3 separate regions of the Homo sapiens genome follow, and regions 2 and 3 are each linked to region 1. Evidence: fine-mapped expression QTL. A gene starts in region 1. Each other region holds a variant in brackets. All regions are shown on one strand. Distances are from middle to middle.

Region 1 (2,756 bases):
CAGCAGAGGCCCACTGGCCTTGCCGCACAGTGAGTCCATAATGAATGATAATTACCGGTGTCATTATTCATCAAGCAAGTACTGACTGAGTGCCCACTGTGCCAGGCACTATGCTAGGCCCAGGACAATCCCCCGTACATCCTGGGGCCCAGCAACACCACGCATCAGAAACCAAACACAACTTCAGGTGCAAGGAAAATAATGAAGGCGTCAGGCCTGCCTTGGTTTCTCCCTAACCTTTTAGGCTTAAATCCCCCCACCTCCCCTTACCCCGTCCACACCCAGGACTGGAATCTGCTCACCCGGTTCCCTTGGAAGTCCCTGGAGGAAGCACATCCGCTGGGGGGAAGGGTCCCTGCTTCCCTGGAAGACTGTCACGGCCACTACCCTTCTGTCTAGCGCAGCAACGGCCTGCCAGCCTCTTCCACGCTGCTCACAGACCCTGGCACGCCGGCTCTGAGTTTATGAATCACTCCCTCCTCTCTCCGGGCCTCGCCTCCGGAAGGGCTTCGCACACTCACACATCACCCAGACACCGAGTTTCCACACCAAATTCGCTCCTGCAGAACTCCGAGAACCGACTGCAACATCTGCTCCCCTTGGTCTCGGGGTTCTGGCCACAAGTTTTCAAAACCCAGGCAGCCTCTCTCCTGCCCGCTGCGCTTTGGGGGCTCCCTCTCCTTGGGGGCTGCGGGGGCAGCAGACAAAGGCCGTGGATGTGACGGAGGGGTGTGAGGACGTGCCTGCTGTAGAGGCCAAATCCCCCGCGCTCCCAGGAATGTGCATTTCGGTGTGTGGCATGTGCCTGGCCGGTGTGGGTGTGCGCAGATCAGCCTGCGCCGTGTGCGGGGTATGAGTGGCGATGAGCTGTGTGTACCTGGCAGGTGTGATCCGGTTGCAGCGGGTTGTGGGTGCCTGCCTGGGCTTTTCCCCGAGCTGGGAACTCCACCTCCCACCGTCCGCTTCGCCCCCTTCTCCCTCCAAAGTCTGGCGCGCGCGCCTGGACGCGGAAGGCGGGGGCTCCCGGCTGGGCGGCCTCCCCCGGGCTGGGCGGCGGTTCCAGGACGCCGGCGCCCCACTTACCCCGGCCGCCGAGACTCCACCGGCGGCCCCGACCCTCCGCGGCTGGGGTCCGGCGCGGGCAGCATCCGCTCGCAACTTCGCTTTCCTCCTGGAAGATCCCGGCAGAAGCGGTTCCGCGGCCCCGGCGCCCGCGCGGCCCGAGCTGTGCGTCTTCTCCGGGGCGGGCCGGAGGGATGGAGGCGCTGCGGGGCCGGTCGGCACGCTGGAAGGGAAGCGGCGCCAGGCGGGCGCCGTCCTGCGCAGCGAGCCTGCGAGAGGTCCTGCCTGGCGCCCTCCCCGCTCAGGCCCGAGCCGGCTAGCGGCGGCGGATTCCTGAACCGCGTCCAAGGCGTCCGGGAGCCCTTCTCCTCCTCCTCCTCCTCTTCCTCACCCCACCCAGCTCCCACCCCTGCGCGCCCGGCAACTTGGGAACCGTTGGCGAAGTTGGCGCTGCTCGGGCCGCGAGCCGGCCGGGCCTCTGGGGGAGGAAGGGGAGGAGAAGGAGGAGCTGGCGGGAGAGGAGAGGAGGGGAGAGAGGGGAGAGAGGGGAGCCGCCCCCGGGGAGCCGCTGTCTCCAGGACCCCTCTGCGGGCCTTTGTTCCGGGCGCTGCCCCTCGGCCCTCCAGTCCCCGGGGACTCGCTTGGGGCCGCTCGGGTATCCACGCTCTCCTGGCGAGGCTGGTGGGTGGAGGCTGCTTGGAGAACCCCCTTGGCTTCTCCGTGCCGGAGCGCCCGGGGCCGTTACGGCCGCCCCCTCCCCCGACCTTTGCCAGGGAGACCCTCTGGCTGCACGGGTTCCCCATCATCTCTGCCCGGAGAGGATCTTCCTGCTCCCCCCTGGGGCAAGTGGGCTGGAGGACGGTTTCCCTGGTTCCAAAGAACAGAGCACCGTCTCCCTGGGCGGCAGCAGGTCCCACATCCGCCCTCCTGCACTTTCCTGCGCCGCCAGCCAGTCCAAGGCTCCCCTAATTCAAGAACTGGGAAACGGGAGGGACAGAGGGTCTTCCCGGCCCGCCAGGGCTGCCTGGCATTATCTTCGGACCCTCCCAGGCAGCTGGGTCTCCGGCCGGGCTGCCAGGCAAGTGGGGTCCCAGTCGCCTCCCGTGCATGGCGTGGTCGGCTGGGCAGCACCGGCTGCGGGGTGCAAAGGCCAGCTTCTCGAGGGATGAGGTAAAGGGCTCAGAACTGGAACACAAACCGAACCTCCCTGTTCCTTTCCGAATCCTGGTGATGGCCCTGTCCCCGAGAAGGCGAGAACGTCTTGGATTCCACTTGCTGGGCATTCCTCCTGGGACTTCCAGTACGTAACGTCATGAGCTAATTCAGGCCTAAGACAGCACTCCTGACATTTAATGGGATAGTATGGGGTTTAGACAATAAGTTATTTCCTGTACAGGAGAAGTAGGAAAATCCAAAAAAGCTAAAACCTGATTATCTACACTTGGCCTCCCTCTGCCATTCTCAGCATTTACAGATGGACAGCAAATAGAGAACCAGATAGAACTAATCCTGACCCTGTTAGGGACAAGTTGCCCCAGGAACCCCCCGCCCCACACACAATGCAGCTGACCCTTACCCTGAATACTCCGAAGCTGCATTCCTGGACCCTTATCTAGGTGCTACAGCAAGGTCACCAGACTTGCTTACAGCCCAACAGGCAGCATGGGGAAGGTCACGAGAAATGTGGATAAACT
Region 2 (2,756 bases), 74 kb before region 1:
CTGACTACAGATAGGGAAGCCTTGAAACCTCAGCTCCCTTCTCTATAAATACAGATGCACATATTAGCAATTTACCAAGTGAGAAGCTGCTTGGCTTACTATTTGACTGCTTTTTATCTGCGAGGGCGGCATGAGGCAGATGTGCGCGCCTCCATTTTGCAGATGAGGACTGAGTGACAGAGGAGCCCAGTGCCAAGCTTGAGCCCCAACCTGCCATTCTCCAGGCGGGGATGGATGGGCTCCAGAGACTGGGTGGGACCAGGGAGGTCTGAAAGCCTGGGGACAGGGTCTAGCCTCCAACTCTGAAAAATCACATTAGGTCACCAGGGGACAGGGTGCTCTGAGGAGACAAAAACAAGGCCAAACCACTTCCCGGCCGGGTGCTGGAAGTCAACACCAACTCTTTTTGCTCTATAAATAAATTTCATATTTAAATAAATATGGAACAACGTGACCTTTTTTTTTCCTTCTGCAAAAGAAAAGAGCATTTATCCCACCTCCAGAAGCTCATTTCTTCTTTCCAGCTCCTCTGACATCACCCAGGGGCAGCCAGGGAGGAATTTTTTCTTCTGGGATGACTCGATCCCAGCATCAGGCACATCTGGGCGGCGCCTGCTCCACAAGCCACAGACAGGCCCTGTGCCCACGATTCTGCTACAAGTCGTTGTTCAGAACTCAGAGCGGATTTTCCCGTGGAAGCAATATTGCTAGGTGACCGTGATAACCATGACACCATGGACACTCACTTGGAAGCAATCTTGCGTGTGGGTGTTTGGTTCCCAGGCTAGACCAGCAGCCCATTTTGGAGGCAGGAGGGAAAGACAAGGGCTTTGGGGTCAGGTGTGTCCTGGCTGTGTGACCTTTAGAAGTGACTCAACTTCTGAGCGCCTCCCTTCCCCAGTCTGTTGACGCTGGGAGATCGTTCTCCAGGGCCCCTTGCATTCCTGCTTGTCTTGTGACAGCTTTTGTTCTGGATTATCTTTTCAAGGACGTTTGTGTAGTCAACAGCCTAGGAAGTGTACACAGAGTAGCTGAGACAAGTCCCAATCAATTTAGAAAATTTATTTTGCCACGGTTAAGGATGCGTCCTCAGGAGGTCCTGAGGACACATGCCCAAGGTAGTCGGGGCACAGCTTGGTTTTATACATTTTAGGAAAACATGAGACATCAGTCAATGTATGTAAGATGTATATTGGCTGAGTCTGGAAAGGTGGGACAACTCAAAGCAAGGAGGGGGCTTCCAGGTCATAGGGTGGATAAGAGACAAAAGGTTGCATTCTTTTGAGTTTCTGATTAGCTTTTCACTGAATACCCAATTTACAGGAATAGCTACTTGTGCCGTAGTCTGGCTTAGTGAAAC[A/G]ATAGGGCAGAGGAAATAATCAGACCTGCATTTGTCTCCTGTGAGCAGAGGGATGACTCTGAACTCTGTCTGTCCTTTGTCCACAAGGAATTTCCTTGTAGGCAAATTGTGAGGGAGGACAAGGAATTTCCTTGTAGGCAAATTGTGAGGGAGGTATGTAGCTTTGTCTTGGGAGGCAGGTTTGCACTACTCAGTTCCCAGGTTAAGGACCTGCTTGACTTAGTTCCCAGCTTGATTCTTCCCTTTGGCTTAGCGATTTTGGCGTCTCCCTCCAGGGAAGAGGGAAGATTTATTTGTTTGCTTTCCAGGGGAATAAAAACAATGCTTCCCATCAGGGCAAAGATTGGGCAAGTTTGCTGGAAGCCCCCTCCTAAGACTGGGAGTTTTCCAGGTTTGGGGTTCTTCAGCTAAACCCACTGAACATGGGCCCACCTCCAAATCTGCCCCACGAGACAAGGGGAACCAAGGCGAACATGAACTCCTGTTGCCTGTTGTGTTTGAGCAATAAAGCCCTTTGTCTGGGTCCCAGGAGTCTTGCGTCTTCTGCCAGCATCCATGAAACCATGGCAGGCTACCTTGCTAGCCTAAAAGCAGGGTGAAACTCAGACCCTGCAGTTCTTGACGGTCAATTCCATGCTTATAATACTCACCTTGTTGCTGTGAGGGAGATGCCGGGCCGTGCCTTGCCCTTGGTGGGTGGTTAATAAAAGGTGACTGTGGCAGTTTTACTATCAGTGGCCAGGAAGTTAGTTATTTACAAGCCACACAGGATTCCCACTCTGAGTGCCAGTGGTACAACCTGGCCCTAGCCCTGGGATTAGAAATTCCATTCCTTTTGTGGGGTCTGGGCGCCTGGATAGGCTCGCTGCGCCTGGGGGAAGGGCTCCGGAGGGTGAAAATCCTCCTTGGTCACCCCTTCAGCCCCTTCGGGTAACCGCTATAACCCATGTAAAATATATCTTTCTAGACCTTTCCCTGCACATCAGTATGTTTAGAGAATGTATAGCAGTTTGTTTTCATATAAATTATTTATACTGTATGTGTTGTTTTGCAATTTTCATTTTTCACTTAAAAATATTTCAGCCGGGCGCAGTGGCTCACGCTTGTAATCCCAGCACTTTGGGAGGCTGAGGCGGGCGGATCACGAGGTCAGGAGATCGAGACCATCCTGGCTAACATGGTGAAACCCCGTCTCTACTAAAAACACAAAAAAATTAGCCAGGTATGGTGGTGGGCACCTGTAGTCCCAGCTACTTGGGAGGCTGAGGCAGGAGAATGGCATGAACCCGGGAGGTGGAGCTTGCAGTGAGCCGAGATCGTGCCACTGCACTCCAGCCTGAGCCACAGAGTGAGACTCTGCCTCAAAAACAAAAAAACAAAACAAAACAAAAAATTC
Region 3 (2,756 bases), 21 kb before region 1:
ATCTACACTCGGTCTGCCAGTGGAAACAGAGGTCAATTGTCTAACTGCTCTGAGCGTTGGACAGATGGCCCTGAACTCGGACAGACTTGGAGTGGGTCCCAGCTCTCCCACTTACTCTCTGCTGACGTTGGGTGAGGAATTTAACTTCTCTGAGCTTAGGCTGGCCCCACAGGGTTGTTGTGAGCATCAAGGAAGCTGTGTGAGCTCCGAAAATTGGGAAGATTGCACACAGGCTGGGCATTATTGCTGGTCTGAACAAATGTCAGCCAGAGCCCGTCTATGCCAATGGCACTGTTGGTTGGTATTTCTTGGGTACATCTCTCCCCATGCTGGGCTGCAGGGGAGGGACACTGGCTGATCCACTTCGGGTTTATCTTATAGAACCAGCCCCAGGCGATCTCTGCCTGCTGCAACTATTCCTATCGGTCAAGGGCCCACCTTTCCAGCATTACTTACAGGGACACTCACCTAACATGTCAGGCCTCGGGCCTGGGCACACCTGGACATGGCCATGGCCAAACGGTTTCTCAGCTAAGAGGGCAAGTCAATTTCCACCCCGGGCCAAAGCTGACAGATGGGAAGGGGCTGCCTGGAGCGCCGTATTTGAAAATACGAGTGCTGCGATTGCTCTGTGACATCTATCATGGGTGGAGGATGGCACAGCTATTGTGAATCTGCTGCGGCTGTTTTAGAGGACTGGTTTTCAACTCTGACAGCATAAGAATCATCCAGAGAAGTTTACAAATCACTGAGGCCTGGGTGCCACCTCCAGATTCAGATTGCATTGGTGTGGCCTGGGCATCAAGATTACTTAAAGCTCCTTAGGTGATTCTAACCTAGAATCAGCAAAGATGGAGAGCCACTACTTTTAGAGCACCCAACTTCACTACCCTGGCGCTCTTACAGACAGCGGGAGCTGCTGCCTGCACACACACTAGCTATCAGCAAGGCCAGAGTGGCAGCGGCCTGCTGAATCTCTTGCTAACCAGGGAGGGATGCCAGGAGAACAGGTCTGTGTCCCTTGTTTTACCTACTTAGTAAAAAAAAACAACACTGATACACATACAATAACTTGGATGAATTTCCAGGGAACTGTGCTGAGTGAAAACAGCCAATCACAAAAGGTTACACACTGCATAATTCCATTTATAGAACATTCCTGAAATGACAAAACTGTAAGAATGGAGAACAGACTAGTATTGCCAAGGGTCAAGGAAGGGGTGGGGGCAGGAGGGAAGTGAGTGTAGTTATAAAAGGGCACCACAGGGGATTCTGTATGAAGTCAACATTCTGATTGTGACATTAGGCTAGGCTTTCACAGAATGTTACCATAGGGGGAAGTGGGTAACAGATTCATGAGACCTCTCTGTACAATTTATTAAAATTGC[G/A]TGTGAATCTACTGTTATGTCAAAATGAAACTGTGTAATGAAAAGGAAAAAAAAGAAAAGAAAACTAGCTCCCACAACAGGAGGCAGGGTTTCAAGAGATCTTTGCAAGTTGGAAGTAGAGGTGGGGCAGTAAGATTGAGCAGAAATGGCCTTTCTAGGGCAGAGGAGTGAACTAGTTGGGTTCAAACTGGACCTCAACTGGAGTTTGGCTTTTTGCAGAACCATGAGAAAGTGACCTTCCTGGGATCTATTCATGTGTAGTGATAAGCGTGGGGACTTTCTGAGGGAAAGGCTAAATGAGGATGCTACTCCTCATGGCAGGGGGAGAAAAACAGGGGACAGGATCCTGGAGGGAATAGCATGATATGTGATCCCCCATCAGCTGGACAACATGGTGTGGGTTCTGGTAAGGAGGGGAGCTGGGACTAGCGGCTGCAGGCAGTGAGTCCCATGAGACCATGCAAGGCTTGGTGCCCAAGCAGTGCTGCTACAGGGCCCAAAAAGCTCTGCGCAACCTCAGCGGGTCAGGGGGTCGGCCAAGCATGGCCTTGGGGCGAAGGAGACTGGGGCAACCACGCCAGCTGCGCAGCACAGGCACTCTGGCTGGGAGGCTTGGGACATCTGGGTTATCTTTGAACGGCTCACTGGACTTTGCAAGGGGCAGAGCAAGCTTCAGGCTGCTCTATGGCAATTCTGCGGCAGGAAGGAGGAGAAGAAAGATTTGAAGAACTAAGATGGAAATTTGTAAGAGTGCAAGCTTTTGGGAAAGTACCTAAAGAATCTCTGAGTGACAAAAGCTCACATGAAACAAGTATATTCATTTGCTGAGGACTTGCTCTGGGCCAAGCATGGAACCAGGCACTAGGAACAGGAAGGAAAAGACACAGCCCCTGCCCTAGAGGAGCTGAATAGTAACAGAAGTTAACACAGTGAACAAGGAATTGTTCCAAGTACTTCATGTACATAAATGTACTTAATCTTTGGAAGAACCCTGGATAATGCTTATGGATAATAGTCACCATCCCCATCAAAGGCAAGGGGATGAGAAAACTTACCCTGAGTTAAAGGCAGAGCTGGGATCGGAACACAGGAAGCCTGGCTCCACAGTCCACAAATTCAACCACTATGCTCTGTGTCTGAGCAAGCTGATTTAGCCAGAAGGGAGCAGCTGTACAGCAGTGGACAGATCAGAGTCCTAGTCAGGAACTGATCTTTCAGGACCTGTCACCAACTTGTGGTGTGGCTTTGTGTTAAAGGTGGAGGGTGTCCAGGTTCTTGGTGTCTTGAACACAGAGTTAGACAAAACGCACAAAGCAAGGAAGGGATGAAGGGATTTACTGAGAAAGTGCGCTCCACAGCGTGGGGCGG

Alleles and levels. Positions count from the first base shown, and alleles are read on the strand shown. Sizes are in standard deviations (SD) of each study's normalised expression.
With allele A in place of G in region 2, the expression in minor salivary gland of the gene that starts at base 1,383 in region 1 is higher (moderate effect, 0.63 SD a copy in GTEx).
With allele G in place of A in region 3, the expression in lymphoblastoid cells of the gene that starts at base 1,383 in region 1 is higher (large effect, 0.80 SD a copy in GEUVADIS).

What was found.
Region 2: its variant is fine-mapped to the expression of CHST3 in minor salivary gland (GTEx, PIP 0.97).
Region 3: its variant is fine-mapped to the expression of CHST3 in lymphoblastoid cells (GEUVADIS, PIP 0.95).

The regions. Positions count from the first base shown.
Region 1 is chr10:71,963,022-71,965,777 of GRCh38, reverse strand. CHST3 (carbohydrate sulfotransferase 3) reads right to left here and starts at 1,383. Exons shown (of 3, transcript NM_004273.5): 1 at 1,084-1,383.
Region 2 is chr10:72,036,768-72,039,523 of GRCh38, reverse strand. No RefSeq gene overlaps it. Among named protein-coding and RNA genes, the nearest start is that of SPOCK2, 50 kb to the left of the region's middle. The variant A/G (reference allele first, on the strand shown) is at 1,361.
Region 3 is chr10:71,984,351-71,987,106 of GRCh38, reverse strand. All of the region lies in intron 1 of CHST3 (carbohydrate sulfotransferase 3), which reads right to left. Among named protein-coding and RNA genes, the nearest start is that of CHST3, 21 kb to the right of the region's middle. RefSeq lists enhancers at 1,960-2,029, 2,090-2,139. The variant G/A (reference allele first, on the strand shown) is at 1,389.